Homo sapiens: one gene and its partners. The protein of the gene in region 1 interacts with the protein of each later gene in a pairwise test. Each region holds a gene or a part of one and is shown in the gene's direction. Other genes may lie near its edges.

Region 1 (7,927 bases):
GAAGCTAGATGTAGGCATCTTCTGGCCTACACAAATAAGATTTTTTTAAGAGAAATGCATAGAAGCATTTTTCATTTTAATATGTTATAAACATAACACAATTGCTCAAAACAGGGTTTATTATTTAGAAGAGAAAAATATACTTGAGTAGAGACTATATTTCATACCCAAATCTACTTTTTCCCTCTGGGTCACAAGCTTTCTCTATTTGCAGACTTTCAAATTCAAGATAAATCATTTGATTGTGGAATTATTTCATCTTTTGAATTCCTCAAAGAAAAAGGATAATGAAGTGTGTGGACATTATGCTAAATGAAATAAGCCAGACGGAGAAAGACAAATACTGCAGGATCGCACTTATATGTGGAATCTTAAAAAAAAAAAAAAAAAAAAAAAAAAAAAAAAAAAAAAAAAAAAAAAGTTGAATACATAGAGAATAAAGTGGGGTTCTCAGGGGAGGGTGTAGGGGCAGGAAATGGAGAGGTGTGGATCAAAGGGTGCAAAGCTGCAGATGTGTAGGATGAAGAAGTCCAGAGACGGAAGATACAGCTGACAGCCAGAGGTATAATATCTTATTGAATACTGAAAATTTGCCCACAGCAGATTTTAGTTTCGGTTACCATGAAAAAAAAGTAAAAAAAGTAACAATGCAAGATGATAGATATGTTAATTTGCTTGATGACAGCGCTCATTTCACTATTATGAATATAGCAAAACATCCCATTGTACACCTTAAATACGTACAGTAAAAAGAATATTATTATTATATTTATTTATTATTATTATTATTATTTTGAGACTGTCTCACTCTGTCACCCCGGCTGGAGTGCAGTGGCGTGATCTCAGCTCACTGCAAGCTCTGTCTCCCAGGTTCACGCCATTCTCCTGCCTCAGCCTCCCAAGTAGCTGGGACTACAGGCTACCACCCTGCCCGGCTAATATTTTTGTATTTTTAATAGAGACAGGGTTTCACTGTGTTAGCCAGGATGGTCTCGATCTCCTGACCTTATGATCCGCCCACCTCAGCCTCCCAAATTGCTGGGATTACAGGCATGAGCCACCGCGCCCGGCCCCAAAAGAATATTATTTAAAAATCAGGCAGGGCACAGTGGCTCACACCTGTAATCCCAGCACTTTGGGAAGCTGAGGCAGGTGGATCACCTGAGGTCTGGAGTTCCAGCCGGGCCAACATAGTGAAACCCCATCTCTACTAAATATATAAAAATTAGCCAGGCATGGTGGTGTACGCCTGTAGTCCCAGCCACTCGGGAGGCTGAGGCAGGAGAATCACTTGAACCCAGGAGGCAGAGGTTGCAGTGAGCCTAGATCATGCCACCGCACTCCAGCCTGGGTGACGGAGTGAGATTCTGCCTCAAAAAAGTGAAAATAAAACTATACAAATAAATATCACAATATGCTCACATTTAATGGTGAAATATTGAGACCTTGTCCTCTGAAATGGAGAGTTATACAAGAAGGTGCACTAGTACCACATCTGTTCAACATTTGACTTGGGTTCCAAGTCAGTGCAATAAAGGCAAAAAAAATAGAAGGAACTATTATGCGTAGAGCTGCCATGAACATTCATAGACCAATCTTTGTGTGGACACACGTTTTCATGTATATTTACCTTTATAAGAAACCCTCCAAATGTTCCCCAAAGTGGTTGGACAGTTACGCATTCCCACCAGCACAGTGTGAGAGCTCCTGTTACTCCCCAGCCTTGTGTAAACCTGGTATTTTCCATTTTAGCTCTTCTGGTGGGTGTGCTGTGGAATCACATTGCGGTTTTAATTTGCATTTCCCTGATGACTAATGATGTTGAGCATCTTTTCATGTCTATGTATATATCTTCTTTTTAAAAGTATCTTTTTTGATACTTTGCCCATTCTTAAAATAGATGCTTGTTTTCTTATTATTTGTTATAAGTATATATAAAATATTCTGTATATTCTAGAAACAAGTCCTTTGTCAGCTATATGTATAGTGATACTTTCTCCCAGTCTGTGGTTCACCTTATTATACTCTTTAAGATGTCTTTCAAAGAGCAGAAGTTTTCAACTTTGGTGAAGTACAGTTCATCAACTTTTTCTTTTGTTGGTTTATTCGCTTTATGTCCTAAGAAAGTTTTGCAAACTCCAACATAGCAAACATTTTTTTTCTAGGTTTTCTTAAGGAGTTTTATAGTTTTAGCATTTACATTTTGAGTTAATTTTTGTATATAATGTGAGGTAAGGGTTGAGGTTCGTTTTTCCTCCTACCAATATGCAGTTTTCCTAGCACTAATTTTTTTTTTTTTTTTTTTCAGACAGGGTCTCATTCTGTCACCCAGGCTGGAATGCAGTGATGCAATCACAGCTCATTGCAGCCTCGATTTCTTGGGCTTAAGCCATCATCCCACTTCAGCCTCCTGAGTAGCTGGAACTAATGCCACCATGTCTTTTTTTTTTTTTTTTTTAAGAGACGGAGTCTCACTCTGCTGCCCTGGCTGATCTCAAACTCCTGGGCCCAAGTGATCCTCCCACTTTGGCCTCCCAAACTGCTGAGATTATGGGCTGAGCCTCTAGCACCATTTATCAAAAGCATTATCCTTCCCCCATTGAATTTCATTGGCATCCTTGTTGAAAATCAATTGATTGTAGGTGTGAATCTTTTTGCACTACCCAATGACACACTATGACACACCATGGCAACCTGATTTGTAAATGTTTATGAAAAAGCAAAGGACAAAACCAGAGGGTTTAGCACTATAGTGATTAAAACAGTGTAGAATGGGCACAAAGAGGGACAAATCAAACAAGAGAGCACACAAGTTAGAAAAAACTAATCCATATACAGTCACTTGATTTACAATAAGCCTCCTACTGCAATTCACTGGGCAAAGGATAGCCCTTTCAATGCGGAAGTAGATGAAAGTTTACCCCTACCTCACACCATACACAGAATGAATTCAAATGGATCATAGAGCTAAATATGAAGAGCAAAAGTAGCAAAACTTCTAGAACAAAACATAGATGATCTTCATCGATGTTGGATTAACAACAATCTCTTGAACAGGATGCAGAAAACTCTAACCAGAGTTCCCACAAATTGATAAGAAAAGCAAACACCCTAGTGAAAAAAAAAAAAGAGCAGAATATCTGAACAGGAACTTCCCCAGAGAGGATATTCAAATGGGCAATAAGCCTGTGAAATGGTGCCCAATATCATTATCCCTCAGGGAAATACAAATGGGAACCACAGGGAGATACAACTACACACCACCCCCACCACAGAGTGGCTAAAATTAGGGACTGATAATATTAAGTGTGCATGAGGATATAGAGCTTTGTACAACTGCTTGGCAGTTCCTAATGGAGTTTCACGTGCTCTGTGATCCAACAACCCCACTCCTAGATGCACACCTAACAGAAATGCATGCACAAGGCACTCAAAGACACATACAAGAACGTCCTCAGCAACATTAGTTACAATAGCAAAACAACCGAAAACTTCCTGAATGCATATCAACAGAGAAATGGATAAATGAATTATGTTATATTTATTTTATTTATTTATTTTTGAGCTGGAGTCTCACTCTGTCCCAGGCTGGAGTGCAGTGATGCAATCTTTGCTCACTGTAACCTCCACCTCCTGGGTTCAAATGATTCTCCTGCTTCACCCTCCTGAGTAGCTGGGATTACAGGCATGCACCACCATGCCCAACTAATTTTTGTATTTTTTAGTAGAGACAGGGTTTCAACATGTTGGCCAGGCTGGTCTCGAACTCCTGACCTCAGGTGATCCACCCCCCCCTTGGCCTCCCAAAGTCCCAAAGTGCTGGGATTACAGGCGTGAGCCACCACGCCTGGCTGGTATATTTATTAATCAAATACTACACAGCAATAACAGTGAACTAACTGTGGCTACAAGCAATAATGTGGATAAATTTTACAGGCATAATTTGAGGAAAAAGAAATGAGATATGATAGAGAATATGCTATATGGTTCTATTTACATAAGGCTCAACCACAGGCACAATTCATATACAAGTGATACAGCAGTTTACTTTCTGGGGGAGGGAGGAGATAACTGGAGGAGGCTGAGCTGGGGGCAGAGGTGCATCTGAGGTTCTGAGAATGTTCCAGAGCAGGCTATCTCCACCTTGGCACTAGTGAAATTTTGTTGGGGAGACTGTCCTGGGCACTGTGACATTCCCGGCCTCTACCCACTAGTGCCGGTACCACGATGTCCACCCCACCCACCACCACCCCCGCCTCATTTTGGAAACAAAAATGTCTCCAGACATTTCCAAATGTCCCCTTGGGTGGAGGAGGTACAAAATTCCCCTGGTTGCCCTGTTTGATTTTGGGTCGTGGGGGAATTAGGGGTGTGGGCTCATTTATGGAAATTCCTTGAGCTATACACATATGATTCATCAACTTTTCTGTACACATATAAAGCTTTTAAAGTTTTTAAAATAAAAAAACAAGTCAATGAATGACTGAAAGAACCAGTAAGTTTTCCAGCAATCCGAGACAATAGATAGAGTGGGGTTTAATGTCTTGTTCACAGACAAGGAGACTGGGATCCAGGGTGGGTCAGGGCAGGGGGCCAGCAGGATCCAGGAGGGAACTCATTCCCTGACTTCTCCTCCGCTTCCTTCCCCCATGCTCTCACGCATTCTTGCTCCCGAATACTAGCCAAGTCCCTACAGAGGCTGATCCCGTGCAGGGGCTCGGTTGGACCTTTAGCCTCAAACTCCCGTGGTGGAAACAGTTAGGATTGGTGGACGCTGCACCCAGCATCCTGCAAACAGAATTCTGAAAACTGATATCTCATGCAAACAGGATATCAACTTTTGTCAGAAAGATCAAAAAGAGCTTGAGGTTTTTCTTCACAGCCTCAGCCTTGCCTCTCCCCCTCTTGCTTTATCTCCTCATTTCTGTGTGCAGGCGAGCTTCTTGGCCTAAGGGCAGGAAGAGATGGCAGCGGGGGAGACGCAGCTCTACGCCAAGGTCTCCAACAAGCTCAAGAGCCGCAGCAGCCCCTCGCTCCTGGAGCCCCTCCTGGCCATGGGCTTCCCGGTGCACACCGCGTGAGTACTGCCCAGAGACCCCGGGGCCCAGCCAGTAAGGCTGGTGCCAGACCCTGCTGCGGCCCCCGGCATGGAGCTGCAGGGGTGTAGGGTACGGCTTCCTGCCAAAGCAGTGCACCTTGCAGGGTAAGACACTGCCTCTTCACAGGGCCCTCTTCTGCTTCTCGTAAATGAGGTGATCTTGACCAAGCTTGTCCAACCCACATGAGGCCCAGGACAGCTTTGGGCTTAAGCCATCATCCCACCTCAGCCTCCTAAGGCTGCCCTGTTCAATTTGTGTTGGCTGCCCAACACAAATTGGTAAACTTTCTTAAAATATTATGAGATTTTTTTTTTAGCTCATTAGCTATTATTAGTGTTAGCGTATTTTATGTGTGGCCCAGGGAGGCACAAGAATACCCCTGATATTCTTGACCTTTTAAAGACCAGCTCGGCTGGCTGACTGGGGGACCCTGAAATTTGTGAAAATCAGAAGCCATGTATTACTCTGGGTGCCCCATTTTGGGGGTTTGGAGGAGATTGGGGCCTGGTTGTAATCTCTTTGTGTGCAGCTCAGTGACTCTGAAAGTGGCGTTTCAAGATATTCAAACTCTAACGTGAAAGGCCCCAAAGCCCGCTGAGTCTCTAACACTGGGACCAACTGTCAGCAGGGCTGTGCTTCCACGCTGCCCGGGGAAAGTCACTTGTCCTCAGAGACAATCCCTTGAGTGTCTGATAACGAAACAAATGGGTAGGAAACTTCAGACACAGTGTGAGCGCGACCCTGCTTACCCAAGGGAAAGGCCTGCATGTGGAAGAGCTTAGCCTTCAGAGTTACCACTCTCGGAGAGGGAGGCCACGACACCAACATTGGGTTACAGCTTTCATGGCAAACCAGTGCCTTAAATCTGACCCATTCATTTTTTCACATGGAAAAATGTATCAGAAACACACTTTAAATCTGACCCATTCATTTTTTCACATGGAAAAATGTATCAGAAACACACTTTAGGTAACTTTGGGTTGGGGAAGGAGCTAAACTTTCCTTCCACACTATAACAAAAGCTTGGCCAAATTGGGTGAAGTAACTCTGAAGCTAGACAAACCCATTTCTTCTCCCCAAATCAGGGCTTTGTCGTCACTGTTATGTTCAAGCTAAGCCAGGGGCCTTTGAATGGGGAGTGGGGTCAGGCATGTGCAGGGCGGCCACCGGGCACCGTCCAGGCATTACAGACAAGGCAGCTTTTGTCCACTGCTCACCACCCAGTGCAGGCAGGACACTGGGCCCAGAGAGTGCATTAGTGGCGGAGGTGGAACCCGAACCAGCTTTCCATGCCTTTGAAGGAGTCCACGCTGGATTTTACTACTAAACGTATAGCATGGACTTCTACTCAAAATTCCTTCCAGTTTAAACATTAAGCACATGTTGGAGGAAGAGAAATGTGTGTTAATTTCCCCACACCAGAGCACCTCATAGTAAGTGCCCTGCACCAAGGCTGCCTTGTTCAAACCTCTCCAGGTGGCCACAGCCCCATCGGTGCCCACCCAAATAGCAGCATTCGGCATCATGTGGTGGGTTCCTCATGGACGCCCGCTGTTTCCAGTCTGCATTCCTGATAAATTACCTTTGCTATATTCCATTCTGTTTCATTTGGTCCAGTTCTGCCCAATTCAATGCAATGTACTTACGTCCCGGGTTACCGTGATGAATAAGACTCAGTCCTGTGTTCAGGGAGTTCTTGGTCTAGCAGGGGAGAGCCGTGGGTGCAAGGGGACTGTGTAAGCCGTAACAAGTGCCTGCCTGGGTGCTTTGGAAAGGGCTGTTTCCCAGCAGAGAGGTGTGGGAGGCGAGCCTGGGGATCAGGGTCGCTGATGCTGGGGTGAGGAAAGCGTGTGTCCGAGCCAGGGGCACGTTCCGCAGGGTGGGTCCATTTGATCTAGGCAGTGGGGGGGGGGGGGGCAGGCCAGGGAGAGGGATTGCAGGAGCGGGCGGAGGTCAGGTCCTCAGCCCTGAGACCCCGTGCCAAGGGCTGAAGCGGGTAGCCAGGGAAGGACAGTGAGGGGGAGGTGTGAGCTGGTCAGCATTGTCCAAAACCACGATGGCAGCACTCAGGGGACAGGCGCTAGAACTTCCAGCTGGAAGTTCAGCATCAGGCCCTCTTCAGAGCACCCCCCAAAGATCCTGGGTGTGCAAGGCCACACCCTGCCTCTCTGACCCTTTTCCCAAGAATGGGCGACGTGACTTTGTGTCTGTGTCTGCTCTTCTGCAGGCTGAAAGCGTTGGCAGCCACGGGGAGGAAGACGGCGGAGGAGGCCTTGGCCTGGTGAGTGCAGCTGCTTCTGTAGACCCAGGGGCGTTTGGGCTGAATTCCCTGTGCCTAAGGACTCCCTCCCACCAGGGCTGATACCAGGAAGAGCCGGGCGCCTCTGGGTGGGATGGGGCCACTGCGGAAGTGAAACAAAATAACCTCCCTGCCTACCCATAGTGCACTGAGGGAGGGGCACAGGGCTTTGGTTAACCATGGAAAGAGAAAGAGAGAACTCTGAACAAGGCTTTCTTCACTTACAAACCTGATTCAATCCAATTTGACTGCCAAGAAGAACAGGTTCATGTGCTTTGTTGAGTAAATGGGGAAGACATGATTGTTGTGTTGTGATAAGCACGTAAATGAGGGTAATTGTTAGAATAAAGTAATTAGGTTAAAAATGGTAACATTTGGGTTTATATTAGTACTGCTAATATTCAGCCTATTTCAGTAATTGAAGAGCAGGCTGGGATTTTGCATACTTGTGTTTGATTATGTCCTCCTCAACTGCCTACTACGATGGATAAGATTGAGATAGATAGGAGGATGTTTGTGTTTATTGATG
Region 2 (7,879 bases), on another chromosome or scaffold:
CCGTGGCTTCTAAGAGTTCAAGTGAAAGGAAAAGTTGCAGGTTTCTCCCTTTAAATAAAAAGCTAGAAATGATGAAGTTTAGGGAGGCGGCATCTTTCATAGCTAGACAGGAGGAGTCTGCCTTCAAAACCTTCAAAGGATGGGCTGACTCTCTTGCTAGGAGCTAATGCAGCTGATGACTTCAAGTGGGAAGTCAATGCTCATTTACCATTCTGAATATCCTAGGGCACTTAAGAATGATGCTAAATCTTTTCTGCCTGTGCACTACAAACGGAACGACAAAGCCTGGACGACAGTGCATCTGTTTATAACATGGTTTACTGAATATTTTAAGCCCACTGTTGAGACCTACTGCTTAGAATAAAAGGTTTCTTTCAAAATATTTCTGCTCATTGACAATGCATCTGATCACCCAAGAGCCCTGATGGAGCTGTCCAAGGAGATTAATGTTTTTGTGTTTGCCAACACAACATCCATTCCACAGCCCATGGATCAAAAACTAATTTTGACTTTCAAGTCTTATTACCTAAGAAATATATTTCATAAGGCTATAGCTGCCATACAGAGTGATTCCTCTGATGGATCTGGGCAAAGTAAATTGAAAACCTTCTGAAGAGGATTCACTATTCTATATGTCAATATTTGTGATTCAAGAGAGGAGGTCAAAATATCAACATTAACAGGAGTTTGGAAGAAGTTGATTCCAACTCTCATGTATGATGTTGAGGGGCTTAAGACTTCAGCAGAGGAAGTAACTATAGATGTGTTGGAAACAGCAAGAGAATTAAAATTAGAATTGGAGCCTGAAGATGTGACTGAATTGTTGCCATGTTATGGCAAAACGAACGGATGAGGAACTGCTTCTTATTCATGAACAAAGAAAGTGGTTTCTTGAGATGGAAACTACTCCTGGTGAAGATGCTGTGAACATCACTGAAATGGCAACAAAGGATTTGGAATACTACATCAATTTAGTTAATAAGGCAGTGGCAGGGTTTGAGAGGACTGACCCTAGTTTTGAAAGAATTTCTACTGTTAAAATGCTATCAAACAGCATCACATGCTACAGGGAAATCTTTCATGAAAGGAAGAGTCAACTGATGCGGCAAACTTCACTGATGTCTCATTTTCAGAAATTGCCACAGCCACACTAACTTGCAGCAATCATCACCCTGATCAGTCCTCAGCCATCAACATTGAGGCAAGACCTTCCACCAGCAAAAAGATTATAACTTGCTGAAGGCTCAGATGATCCTTAGCATTTTTAGCAATAAAGCATTTTTAAAATTAAGTTATATACATTGTTTTTAGGCCATAATGCTATGGTACACTTAATAGACTATAGTATAGTGTAAATATAATGTTTACATACACAGAAAAACCAAAAAGTTTGTGTGACTCACTTTATGGTTACATTTGCTTTATTGTGGTGGTCTAGAACTGAACATGCACTATCTCTGAGGTATGCCTGTATCTTCCTCTATCTCAGTGGGTCTCCAAACCACCTGAAGGACATGCTAAACACAGGCTGCTGCATCCCAGCCCCAGCCTCAGAGTTTCTGATTCAGCCAGTCTGGGATGAGCCTGAAAAACTGCATTTCTTTTTTTTTTACATTTTATTTTTATTTTTATCAAAGCAGTGTATCTACATTGTTTAAATAAAACAACATTAAATAGCAAATATTTAAAAACTGCAACATCTATGCCTTCTTTCTTTCTTTATTGTTATTATACTTTAAGTTTTAGGGTACATGTGCACAATGTGCAGGTTAGTTACATATGTATACATGTGCCATGCTGGTGTGCTGCACCCACTAACTCGTCATCTAGCATTAGGTATATCTCCCAATGCTATCTCTCCCCCGTCCCCCCACCCCACAACAAATGAGAACACATGGACACAGGAAGGGGAACATCACACTCTTTTTTTTAAAAATTTTACTTTAAGTTCTGGGATGCATTTGCAGAATGTGCAGGTTTGTTGCATAGGTATACATGTGCCATGGTGGTTTGCTGCACCTATCAACCCATCATCTAGGTTTTAAGCCCCGCATGCATTAGGTATTTGTTCTAATGCTCTCTCTCCCCTTGCCCCCCATCCCCCGACAGGCCCTGGTGTGTGATGTTCCCCTCCCTGTGTCCATGTGTTCTCATTGTTCAACTCCCACTTATGAGTGAGAACATGTGGTGTTCGGTTTTCTGTTCCTGTGTTGGTTTGCTAAGAATGATGGTTTCCAGCTTCATCCATGTCCCTGCAAAAGACACGAACTCATTCTTTTTTATGGCTGCATAGTATTTCATGGTATATATGTGCCACATTTTCTTTATCCAGTCTGTCATTGATGGGCATTTGGGTTGGTTCCAAGTCTTTGCTATTGTAAATAGTGCTGCAATAAACATACTTGTGCATGTGTCTTTATAGTAGAAAGATTTATAATCCTTTGGGTATATACCCAGTAATGGGATTGCTGGGTCAAATGGTATTTCTGGTTTTAGATCATTGAGGAATCACCATGCTGTCTTCCACAATGGTTGAACTAATTTACACTCCCACCAACAGTGTAAAAGCTTTCCCATTTCTCCACAGCCTTGCCAGCATCTGTTGTTACCAGACTTGTTAATGATCACCATTCTAACTGGCATGAGATGGTATCTCATTGTGGTTTTGATTTGCATTTCTCTAATGACCAGTGATGATGAGCTTTTTTTCATATGTTTCTTGGCCACATAAATGTCTTCTTTTGAGAAGTGCCTGTTCATATCCTTTGCCCACTTTTTGATGGGGTTGTTTGTTATTTTCTTGTAAATTTGTTTAAGCTCCTTGTAGATTCTGGATATTAGACCTTTGTCAGATGGGTAGATTGCAAAAATTTTCTCCAATTCTATAGGTTGCCTGCTGACTCTGATAACAGTTTCTTTTGCTGTGCAGAAGCTCTTTAGTTGAATTAGATCCCATTTGTCAACTTTGGCTTTTGTTGCAATTGCTTTTGCTGTTTTAGTCATGAAGTCTTTGCCCATGCCTATGTCCTGAATGGTATTGCCTAGACTTTCTTCTAGGGTGAAAACTCACATTTCTAACATGTTCCTGAGTCAGGTTGATGCTGAGAGTGACTGATAACACCTTATTATAATAATTATAGTTTTTGGGTGAGAGGATTAAATGGGCAAATTAATGCCAAGCACTCAGCACCATGCCTGGTATTTGTATACATTCCACAAGTGCTGGCTATGATTCTGAAGGGTGGCCTGATGAGTCTCATCCCTTGTAGTTGGTATTGCCATCACACCTCCTTCCATCTGATGCTATAATCTTCTCTAAATAGGTAATCCAGACAAGGTACTGGAATTTGTAGTTGTTGCAGAGAATCAAATTGTGAGAGTATTTGATCTGACCCCCTCGATTGGCATGAAGAAACTGAGGTCTGGAGAGACAAAATTACTTTCCCAAGGCCAAATGGCAAGTCAGAGGCAGTATATCTACGCTCTCCTTTTCTTATGCAATGAATGAGCTGGGTGGCATTTTCCCTTTCCTGTTCTTGTACTGACATTTCTGGGAATATGTGAAACATAAGGCAAGTACTTATACCCCAAAATTATATCAAGAAGATTACTGAATAAAAAAGTGGCTATATAGCACACACATACTAAATGTGAAGCTCACAGCTTTTGCAGCCAGGACTGAAAACCACTGCTCTAGCATGTTGCCTTCTTAAGTGAATGCCCAGGGCTTCTATAGTTGGGCAAATATGCTCCCTGTCTCCTGGCTTAGCTCATTCCAGGGCTATAGAACATCCTTTCCCAAGGGAGTGGATTCACACTGCTTCCATAGTCTGAGATCCTGAAGTGAGCCTTCCCCATCTGCCACAACAGAAAGTAAAAGTAGAACCTGTTCCAACTATTCTCAGTCTGTTCAACAAACAATTATTGAGCACTTGACAATTGTGTATATGGTGCAGTGATAATTGAATGGATGGTCCAGAGGGGGTCAAGACAGAGCAGCTGCCACCTGGAGATGTTCATGATATGGACTTTTCCAAGAGGAAGAGACCAACTGGAAAGATGTACCTGATTCTTAGGCTTCTGTTTGGGTCTTTTTTTTTTTTTTTTTTTTGCCTTTTGAAGGGGTGCAGCATTCCTGGAGGTACTGCAATACCAGGTCAACATGTAGAGTGAACAGAGCAAGCTCTTATTCCATCTCCCTGCTCCCAAAATCCATTTAATATGTTGTCCTCAGATGGAGGACGTATCAGATATTAAGACGATAAGAACAGATACCACACTTGATCTTAGCCAAAAGGCTGAGAAGTGATGCTGCCTATGTCTTGAGTTCATTCTCTCCCCACTGATATTATTTTCTTCCCCTTGGCAGGAAGATGATGTCTGTTAGGAAGCCTCTGAGGTTCCTGTTCCTTTCTGCTGGATTTATGCCGCTGCCAGCATCGGAGCAGTTTCTACCACCCACACATTTCCTTGTTAAATAGCCAGGCCTCTTCCCATGGGGAATGCTTTCATTAAAAGAGGCAGCCACTGCTGCACAGACCTGCAGGCTTCTCAGGGCTAGAGCAGGCGGGGGTGCAGTGGGCAAAGCCAGTGGAGGCACAGGCTGGGTTGTGGCAGTCTCCTGGAGGGCCTGCCCTAGTAATGAGGGCCCAGGCATGCGGCTGACCCTTTGAAGATGTGTCCTGAAGCTCTCTCATGGTGATCAATGACAGGAACCCAGACTCCTGCTTTAGCCAAATGATAAGTTTGGCCTCTTTTATTGGAAACCAAATTACAAATTAATTAGCAGCTTCCTCTGGGGCTGGGTGTGAACATCAACACCACCCAATGATGAATTTCTATCATGAGCCCCCTCACTGCAAGGGCATAAAATGGCCCGGGCGGCATGGGGTCTGTAGACATCCAGGTAGCTGTGGCTGAGGAGAAAGGGCCTCTCCAACATGACATCCTCCTGCTGTGTCACCAACAACTTGCAAGCCTCTCTCAAGAGCTGCCCCCGGCCTGCCTCGGTCTGTTCCAGCGGCGTGAACTGCCGGCCTGAGCTGTGCCTGGGCTATGTCTGCCAGCCCATGGCATGCCTGCCTTCGGTCTGCCTGCCCACCACCTTCCGGCCAGCCAGCTGCCTCTCCAAAACCTATCTATCCAGTTCCTGCCAGGCAGCCAGTGGCATCTCCGGCTCCATGGGCCCCGGCAGCTGGTACAGCGAAGGGGCCTTCAATGGCAATGAGAAGGAAACCATGCAGTTCCTTAACGACCGCCTGGCCAGCTACCTGACGAGGGTGCGGCAGCTGGAGCAGGAGAATGCGGAGCTGGAGAGCAGGATCCAAGAGGCCTCTCACTCCCAGGTGCTCACCATGACTCCTGACTACCAGTCTCATTTCAGGACCATTGAGGAGCTCCAGCAGAAGGTGAGGGCAGCGGTGAGGTGAATAGGCTCTCTGGGAAGGGAACTGGACTAGCTGGCATTCCAGATTGGAATCTCGTTAGCTTATTAAGCTATGTTCAGGACAAAGAGACTTCCCTAGGGCATAGGGTTATTTTATAATTTGAGCACTCAGCCTGAGGCTTTCATGTGGAGAGATCTGGGATCTAGTCTCAGTTCTACCATTGCCTCATTGCATGACTTTGGGGGTCCCATCCCTTCCCCAGGCCTCAGTTTTCTCATCTGTAAAACAGGGATAATAATGGTCGTTATCTAATGGGGTTGTCAAAAGGATTTGATGAGATGATGCAGGTCAAGTGCTTGGAACAGCCCCTGGTCCACGGTAAGTTTTCAGTAAATGTCAAAGACCCTTCTAACTGTCACATGAGTGACTTCAGACATGAGATTCTTCCCTTCCACATTGCTTGGCACATCCAAAATGGGGAATTTGAATTTACGAAGCTTCAGGTTCTTAAAAAATACATCTCAAGTTCTCCAAGGACTAGCAATTCGCTAAATATCTCCCAGAGTTCCAGGGAAGAGGACCTTCTGCAGGGATGGCTGCAGGGCTGCTGGATCCTACCTTTGCTGCTGTCTTCTCTTCATTTGGGTTCTTCTTGCTTCGTCTCATCCTGAACTAACCCTCTCCATGTGCCTTGGCCTACAGATTCTGTGTACCAAGGCAGAGAATGCCAGGATGGTTGTGAACATTGATAATGCCAAACTGGCTGCCGATGACTTCAGGGCCAAGTGAGTTCAGTCGGGGGGCTGGAGCTGGGGAGGACCTGTCCTCATAGGCTCTGGGGCAACTTTCCATTAGTTTCACGGAGGGTTGGAAAGTGCCGGCAGTTTAAGGCCTTCCCTGAGTTCTGCATTCTGTTTCACCCTTGGTTGCTGACCCTGTCCTTGTGCAGGTACGAGGCAGAGCTGGCCATGCGGCAGCTGGTGGAGGCCGACATCAATGGCCTGCGCAGGATCCTGGATGATCTCACTCTGTGCAAGGCTGACCTGGAGGCCCAGGTTGAGTCCCTGAAGGAGGAGCTGATGTGCCTCAAAAAGAACCATGAGGAGGTGAGGCTGGAAGTCCCGCTGAAGTGGCCCCGGGAAGCAGAGGGGGAGGAACGTGGGGTATGGGGTTGGATAGGCGTGGGTTGAAATTCCCAAGCCTGCCACATGTTGTTTTAGTGACTTTGCCCAATTTATGGAATCTTCCTGAGCCTCCTCTTCTGTAAAATGGGGACAACATGATCACGCAGGGTTATTGTGAGGATTTAATGGACAGGATATGGATCATGGAAATCCCCAAGGCATGGGTATGAAACACCTGCCACTTGGTCAACTCTCAGAAGTGTAGCCCCCTTCCCTTCTGCATTTCCTGGGCTAGTGTGACTGCCAAGCACTCACTAGTGGCAACTGCATTTTTTTCTCTCGAGAGCCACACAGCAGAGGTAGAGTGGTGCAGTGGTGCCGGGGTGAGTTATGTTCCAGATCTCACGTTGAATGGCCTGTCCATCTCTGCCTGGCTCAACTCTCAGAAGCAGTCCCATCTCTTCTGAGAGGGAGTACAGCTGCAGTGGTCTCCTCTTTTTGCCCCTATCCTTATTTTGTCCTCCCTTCTGTTTGCATATAAAATGCTCAAGCTGAAGCCCTTTACTTTCTGATTTTTCCTTATCTCCTGAAGTTTCTTGGAGGGGAAGCCCTCTGCTTTGGGCACCTGTGTGCTGCCAAGCCCACCTGAGCCATGGTGTTTTTCCCCCCTCCCTGGTTGACTCTCAACCTCTTGACTTGGGATTTGAATGAACAAGTGCCTCTGAATCTTGGCTGGGTTTCCTCAGGCTTAAGTGTAAAGTAACAATCAGTCACCACGTACTCACCGAGCACCCTCGGGCTCCTGACTCATCTTGCTCAAATCAGAGAACTGGGAACGGCACCAAGAAGCCACTAATGAGAAGTTATCACACATCCTGGCAGACTCAGTGACAACTTTCCCTCTTTGGCAGCCAAGCCTGGGAGGCAGCTGCCCTAACTCGGGCCTTTAACTAGTCAAGCCAGGCTCCTGCTACCCTCCTCCCAGGATGAACACAGGTGGGGAGGGAGACTGGGAATACTAGGGGTACCGGTTTCCCATTTTAGCCCAAATGCATCAAACAAACCAGGGTGCTGCTCTTGGCTTCTGCCAAAGTGATAGGAAGTGTTGTGTTGCAGTGAGGTTCCCATCGCAGGGGTATTCAGCTGGAGTTTGAAGAGCACTGGGATGCTGCTGAGTGGACTGCAGTCCTTAGGGGCCATCTAATGTTTCAATCTTTAGCAACTTTTGTTGCATCTTTTCATGTCTCCCTGGGGAGGTGAGCCAGGATCCTATCATTGTCACATTTTTCTGGAGGTCTTGTGCCTTTTCAGGAAGTCGGTTCCCTTCGATGCCAGCTTGGGGACCGCCTTAACATCGAGGTGGACGCT
Region 3 (7,000 bases), on another chromosome or scaffold:
CAAGTTCACCACCTGATTTTATTCAGTTCACAGCCTCTCTTCCAGCAGCTGCAGTCTTGCCTGATCAGTGCTTTGGAAACCATCATATCCGTGCCTGTTGGGTAGGGGACAATGCCTGTCTGTGTGTGGTAGGGGGACAGGGCATGGGGGATCCATCTACGACACTCCATGAATGACCTTGGGCAGGTCAGGGAAACTTATTTTTCAGTTCTGGGTAACTGAAGCACAATGTCCCAACTCAGCTTCTTGCTTCCGGGGCACGTCAGGGTGAGTGTGCAAGTTGATCTCAGACTCCTGGGGGTGAGTGTGACTACACCACTCTTCTCACTTTGCTCACACCTCAGAGACCACCGTTTGCCATTCTGGGGAGTATTTTTGTGTAGACTGTCTTGTTGGGCAATCAAGGTAGGGAAAAGGAGGGAGTGATAGAGACAGAGAAATATTCACACCGTAATGAGTTTTCCTTAGGGAAAGTGGGGAGGAGAAAGAATGTACACTCTCGAGAGGTCAAGAGAGGAAGCGGATGTGCATGCAGTTACATATTCCTTGAAATAGCTCAGCAAAGATGTTTCCTTTCTGAACAAGAAAGACAAACCGGTTTCAGTGTGTGCTTCCCCCTGAAGATGATAGGTGGGCAGACAGGGGCTGAGTCTGAGGGAGTTTCAGTGAGAACAGCCTCATTGGAGAGGGACATTTATGGGAGTGTGAGCAGGGGTGAAGGGAACGGATGGGCCATCTGCATCTGCCTTAGTGCTCCCAGGCTGGACAGCCCTCCGCCTGCCCATGCACACACATTCCTTAGGGTAGGACTTCCTTTCATCTCTCTACTCCTTCAGGGAGGAAGATATTTCATCATTTCCAGAAGTGATTAGACCTTGCTATCGTGTTTCTGAGTGAGAAATCAGTGTCTGTGGGGGAAACCGTCAGCTCTCTTGTGATTCTAATAGATGAGTACCAAGTCCGACTCAGCTAGCTGGACTCCGTGGAGGAGGAAGAGATGGGCACAGGATTGAAAGGCAGAGCTGGGTGCTGGATGTGGCCAGAGAGCCCCAGGGCAGCCGTGCCTGCCTTTCCCAACCGGAAGCCCAATTCCTACCAGGATCTCCACTTCACTTTTCCCTTCTTCCAAACTGCCCGGGCTAAGGCTCAAGCTGCAGCCATCCACAGATTTTGCTATTTCCTGACTGACTTCCGCACAGCTCCCCTGAGGGGCTTTTTGTTCTGGGAGGGCCGCCAAGGGCATGGGCTGCACCCAGGAAACCGCCTGGGAGCCTGGGTCCTTTTTGACATTCATTTTTGTGCTAGCTGTCTCACATCCAAACCTGTTCCTTCCTCCTCACCCTGAGTTGATTCATTAGTGTCTTGGAGATGAGAATCATTCTGAGGGAGGAACTGTGTGGCTTTTTTTAATGGCTAATTAACAGATGGGTCAGGAAGCTATTAGGATGCTGGAGACGCAGTTGGTGAAATCAGAGCTGCCCTGGGTCCTTCCACTGCCTGCACAGGAGCAGAGGGGATCAAAGAATGTGGGCAGGGTGGGGGGGGTGGATATCTAGGTGGGTGGGAAGAAAAATCCAGGTGGATATCAACAGGAAAAAGTATTAGGAGGTGACCCCTTCATCTTGGGTTGGTTCTCTTGCTTATTTCTAGAAGAAGTCAAGGGAATACTTTGTTCTACTCTTTCTCCCTCCAGAAATTAATTAGAAACTCAAAGAGCTCTGTTATTTCCTCACAGGCCACATAACTGCAGTGGCAGGGCCCCTTCGCTGGCTGATTTAGTGAGTTCTCTTCCTAGGCTCCTGGGCAACAAATTGTCAAGTCACTGCGTTTTTTGAAGCACTGTGAGCTCACTATAATGAATTGATCTAAATAGAGAGTCGACTTATTTTTCTACTTCAAATATAGAAGGAAAGAAACAAAAAAGCATCTTGCCTTGGACTGAAAGTTTTAGCCTTGCCTTTATTTCTTTTTTCTTTGAGTTAAAAAAAAAATGCTTCGCCGGGTGCGGTGGCTCACGCCTGTAATCCCAGCACTTTGGGAGGCCAGAGTGGGTGGATCATTAGGTCAGGAGATTGAGACCATCCTGGCTAACACGGTGAAATCCCGTCTCTACGAAAAACACAAAAAGTTAGCCGGGTGTGGTGGCATGCGCCTGTAGTCCCAGCTACTCGGGAGGCTGAGGCAGGAGAATCCCTTGAACCTGGGAAGCAGAGGTTGTAGTGAGCCAAGATCGCACCACTGCACTCCAACCTGGGGGCCAGAGCGAGACTCAGTCTCAAAAAATAAAAAGAAAAAATAAATGCTTGTAGGGAAAGAGGAAAATTGTGGAAGAACTGGAGAAGTCTTATGGAGGAAGGGCTAGGGGAAGGATGCTGGGAAGGCAGAAAGAAGCAAAAATAGCGAAAGGAGGAAAGCAATCCAGTGAGAGGTTGATTATTCCCACTGAAGGGACAAAGTGACGTTGCCCTGCCTTCATGTGCCACAGGCTTGGTTTGTCCTGACTCTTGCAGACACACGCAGACATTCACTTAACAAATGAGCCCTGCTCACCTTCCCTGGGCAAGATGTGTTTCATACTACACCATATAAGCTTATAAGACACATGTTGCCTTTGATATATGAGGTTAGCAGGGTTCCTTCTTGCTTTAGCAGGGCAACCATGCAAATACTTTTCAAATTCCCTACACTGTGCAATTCTCCTTGGTCACATTGCTCACTGTCTTCATGTCCCTTCCTGCCCCTCCCCAAGCTCAGAAGGCCTTCACACCCATCCCTTTCTCCCCTCTTACCCTACCCGAGGTGGGGAGCACATTCATTTCTGGGAATCGACTGCTAAGGTACCAAGTTTACCCACTGTTCTAGGCTGCCAAGACACAGCTAGAGAAAAAAGCCTAATTCATTGTATTCAACTGGTTTTAATGAGAGATCGGATTGACCGTGCAGTGGATTCAAATCAATTGTGCAGGAAACAGTGGTTAAGACAGCTGAGAAAGTGATCTGATTGAAAGAGGCTAATTCACTAGCTCCAGACGGACAGTCCTACGGATCCGGAATAAAAGGGAACCACAACAAAAGAAGCTTCATGCTTCCAGTTCCATCGCCTGATTTTCCAGGGGCTGGCAGATTGTATTTAGGTCTTCCCTTTCTAGTTCAATTTCTATAGTCTGCAAGAATTCCTACCACATGCTGGAACTGCCACCGTGCTCCTGGCTATGGGAGGTCACCACCCTCCTTCCCTGCTGCCCTCTCCCCATTCAAACACCTGTACCATCCATTTTTGAAATTATGGTGAATTTTGTCTTACAATTTTGCTCATAGCCCTTGATGATATATCACCTCTGGAACCACAAAATGATGGTTTCAATTTACAAGCATGTAAGATGTCTCAGATTGGTTGGTGGTGGTGGGAGGGGTTGTGCTTGGGTGGAATATATGAGGATTTAGACTAAGTACGTTTTGTAGTTTCTGTTGTGATTTTTCCCCTCTTTTCTTTACCTTGGGAAACTCCACCCCATTATTTCTTCCTGAGTTACGTTTATGACCTCACCTCTTTGGCGTCTTTCTTTTTTTTTTTTTTTTTGAGATGGAGTCTTGCTTGGTGGCCCAAGCTGGAGTGCAGTGGCACAATGTCTGCTCACTGCAACTTCCGCCTCCCTGGTTTGAGCTATTCTCCTGCCTCAGCCTCCCAAGTAGCTAGGACTACAGGCGCCCGCCACCACACCTGGCTAATTTTTTGTATTTTTAGTAGAGACAGCGTTTCACCATGTTAGCCAGAATGGTCTCGATCTCCTGACCTCATGCTCTGCCCACCTCTGCCTCCCAAAGTGCTGGGATTACAGGTGTGAGACACGGAGCCTGGCCTCTAGTGTCTTTCTTTGCAGATATTGTAGAGAGATAAGAGGCCTGGGTACAAGGGTTACCAGTGAATCCTCAGAGGGTCTCAGTCCCTTGAACTCAACCCTTGAGCAAGCTTAATTTTAAAACAATTCAGGATACATTGCTAACTCTATTTTTTTTAATCTCTCGAAGTGAAACCAGAACTTCTGAAAAAGCAGGGTAGTACATTCTATTCTTTTGTCATCTATTACAGAATTATAACGTTTTCATTGCAGGCAATTCATTTAATCTCGTTACCTAGTTTTACAAGTGAGGCAACTGAAATTCAGAGAGGCTAGGTCACAGTGCCAAGGAGCCCAGCTAGTGGGTGGGTGAGCTTGGAGGTTAAGCCAGGGCGCCTGTGTTCTAGCGCTCAGACTCATCTCATTCAATGAAAATATATTCTGCTTCTTTACTCTTTGCACGTTCCTTGGTTAGTCATCACCAAATAACTTTGGGATCCTTAGAGATGTGAGTTACAGCCTTCTCCTTTCTCTTTCTTTCCTACGTTTCTGTACCCCTCCTGGTTCACTGTTTCCACTGAATGTCTCCACTAAAATGATTTCTGTCGATCTTCCCCGCTCCTTTTGCAGTTTTTTCACGTTCCTTTCTTAAGGGCAATAACCTAATCTAAGCATAATCCTTTTATAAGGTCTGAGTAATGCGGACTATTGAAGAAGGAAAATAACAGCACAACCAAAGAGTTGTGGACTGGGGCAAAAAGTCACCGAATGAAACTGTGGGCAGAAATCTGTCATTAAAAATTCAGGGCCAGGCACAGTGGCTCACGCCTGTAATCCCAGCACTTTGGGAGGCCGAGGCGGGCAGATCACGAGGTCAGGAGATCGAGACCATCCCGGCTAACACGGTGAAACCTCGTCTCTACTAAAAATACAAAAAATTAGCCGGGCTTGGTGGCGGCGCCTGTAGTCCCAGCTACTTGGGAGACTGAGGCAGGAGAATGGCGTGAACCTGGGAGGTGGAGCTTGCAGTGAGCCGAGATCGCGCCACTGCACTCCAGCCTGGGCAACAGAGCGAGACTCCGTCTCAAAAAAAAAAAAAAAAAAAAAATTCAGACTGTGAATGCTTTCTCTCTCTCTCCCAGAGATGAGTGGAAATGCTGAATGCTGAGACCTACCGGATCAATGCAGTTCAGCTCTGTGAGAGGCCAGAGACCTCCCGCCATCCAGTGGCCGTGTGTGTGTGTGTGCGCGTGCGTGTGTGTGGACGTGTGTGTGCGTGTGTATATGTGTGTGTGATTTCAGGGTTATCTTCTGGGTTGGCCCCCTGCATAGAATATAGCTCTGCAAGCCACGGAAGCTCATTCATAGACGCCAGTTTTGCCCTTTCTCAGCTCTGGGCCCAGATACTGCAGGCTAATCAAGCTGGAAATCTGGGCTTAATCATTATGTGAAAATAACCTCTGTGGCATGCAGTTTGGGGGTTTTCCCTGTAATGTGCTTGATACTTCCTTTGAAAGAACCTGGTTGTACATACCTTAATGTGTCACCCTTCCAAGCAGTCACCTTGGGAGGCCGCATGCTGATTTTTCTGCAGAAAATGTTTCCACGGTCCCTCTCTTGAAAGTACATTGAGAGCCCATGGCATGTCATTTTGACTTTATATAAGGGTAACATATTTTAATTTTCCTAGGGTTGATTTGATTCTTGTAAGCAATGGTAAGTCATGGGGCTGAGTCTGATGAATGAGATAGGTGATCAGAAATCAAGAGTGCCTCCAGTAATGAGACTTGCTCTCCTAGGAGCCGTGTCAGCTGTCTCTGAAGGCAGGAGCCCAGAAGAGGCATTTCAGAAAGGAGTGAATGGCAGCTCTGCACAGGAGTGCCTGGCAATCCACGATGATCATTTTGAAGAGGACACTCCTCATGAGGAACGACAATTATTGGCCTTAAGAAAATCAGTTTTATGCTTTATCCGTGTGTCAGGCAGGTGGTGGAGGTCCTAAGAGAGAGGGAGAAAAAGGAGTTGAGTCTGCAGCAAGCATTTCACATGGAACTGCTCAGAAAGGGTGAAAAAGTGCACGTCCCATATTTCTGCATGAGATAGTAGACAGTTAGCTTAATTTAGCTTCCTAGTTTGATACTGAGGGTAAAAGGACCCAGTTTTACGGGATGTATGCAGTGAGGCTCGGGGTCAGAGCCAGAGTGTTCACTGTGCCTTCCCTTCTTTCTATCCCAGGGCTGTCGCCTCTGTACTTCTGCATTCAGACGGGGTCACCAGCTGGGCCAGACTGCCTTAGATGATGTAGAAATATTTGCAAGCCCAGGAAGATAAGGCTGCCAGTGAGCACTGCTGATCAATTCCTAATGTGCATTTATCACCACTCGCTCCACCCCCAAATGTCCATTCAGTGGATGAATTGATCACCGAAATGGAGCGAGGGTGGGGCAGGCTGAGTGTAAAGGCAGGTGACAAGGGTTACCAGACTCAGTGTCTGCAGGCAGGGAAGCCATGGCTGTGCTACCTGGGTAGAATGGCATTCCTTCATCTCAGTCAGGATTTAGGGGTTGGTAAAGGGCTGGGCATTTGTACTGCCCCCATGCATAGGCCGGGGCAGAGCCTCTGGTCCTGATGACCCTCTAAAGGCCATTGTTGGGCATTCTGGAGGAGTCAGTCTTGCTGTGAGCCTGGGGAGTCCCTCTTAACTCTGCTCACGTGTCAGGACAGTGGGAGCTCTGTGTCCCAGGAGCTTACACAACCCCATCACTCATGCAAGCCCACAAGCCAGAGTTGGAGAGAACTGGAGATCTCGGTGAGATGAAGACTCAAGGAAGTGGAGAGGATGGTAGAGAGATACTCATAAGAGTGCCGGGTCTCGAGGGCTTACTCTGTACCAGCATCCAGCTTGCACCTAACCTGCATTATCTCGCTGCATCCTCCCATCATCCCGTCTGAGTGTAGGGGCCCATGTTGTAGATGAGGAAACCGATTCAGAGAGGCTTAGTAACTTGCCCAAGGTCACACAGCTAGTACATTGCTGGTGCCCTTCTCTCTCTCAAGTCCAGTAGAACAGTTGGGTCTCACCTTCCTGAATGTAATGGAGTCAGTGATACTCAGATTACTTAAGAAAGCAAAGACCTACCTTCCCATGCCCTGGGACTGGT

What was found. Proteins that work in one complex are often made in the same cells at the same time.
Region 2: the proteins of UBASH3A (region 1) and KRT32 interact in binary tests that used the Homo sapiens proteins (3 or more experiments, as listed by UniProt).
Region 3: the proteins of UBASH3A (region 1) and SHISA6 interact in binary tests that used the Homo sapiens proteins (3 or more experiments, as listed by UniProt).

Annotation. Positions count from the first base shown.
Region 1 is NC_000021.9:42,398,982-42,406,908, forward strand, and holds the start of UBASH3A (ubiquitin-associated and SH3 domain-containing protein A), read left to right. Parts: upstream 1-4,920; 5' UTR 4,921-4,964; coding exon 4,965-5,077; intron 5,078-7,326; coding exon 7,327-7,380; intron 7,381-7,927. UniProt on the Homo sapiens protein: Interferes with CBL-mediated down-regulation and degradation of receptor-type tyrosine kinases. Promotes accumulation of activated target receptors, such as T-cell receptors, EGFR and PDGFRB, on the cell surface.
Region 2 is NC_000017.11:41,464,387-41,472,265, reverse strand, and holds the start of KRT32 (keratin, type I cuticular Ha2), read left to right. Parts: upstream 1-4,879; 5' UTR 4,880-4,940; coding exon 4,941-5,408; intron 5,409-6,089; coding exon 6,090-6,172; intron 6,173-6,336; coding exon 6,337-6,493; exon of another isoform or gene 6,494-7,507; intron 7,508-7,822; coding exon 7,823-7,879.
Region 3 is NC_000017.11:11,244,213-11,251,212, forward strand, and holds part of SHISA6 (protein shisa-6 isoform 1 precursor), read left to right. Parts: intron 1-7,000. UniProt on the Homo sapiens protein: Involved in maintenance of high-frequency synaptic transmission at hippocampal CA3-CA1 synapses.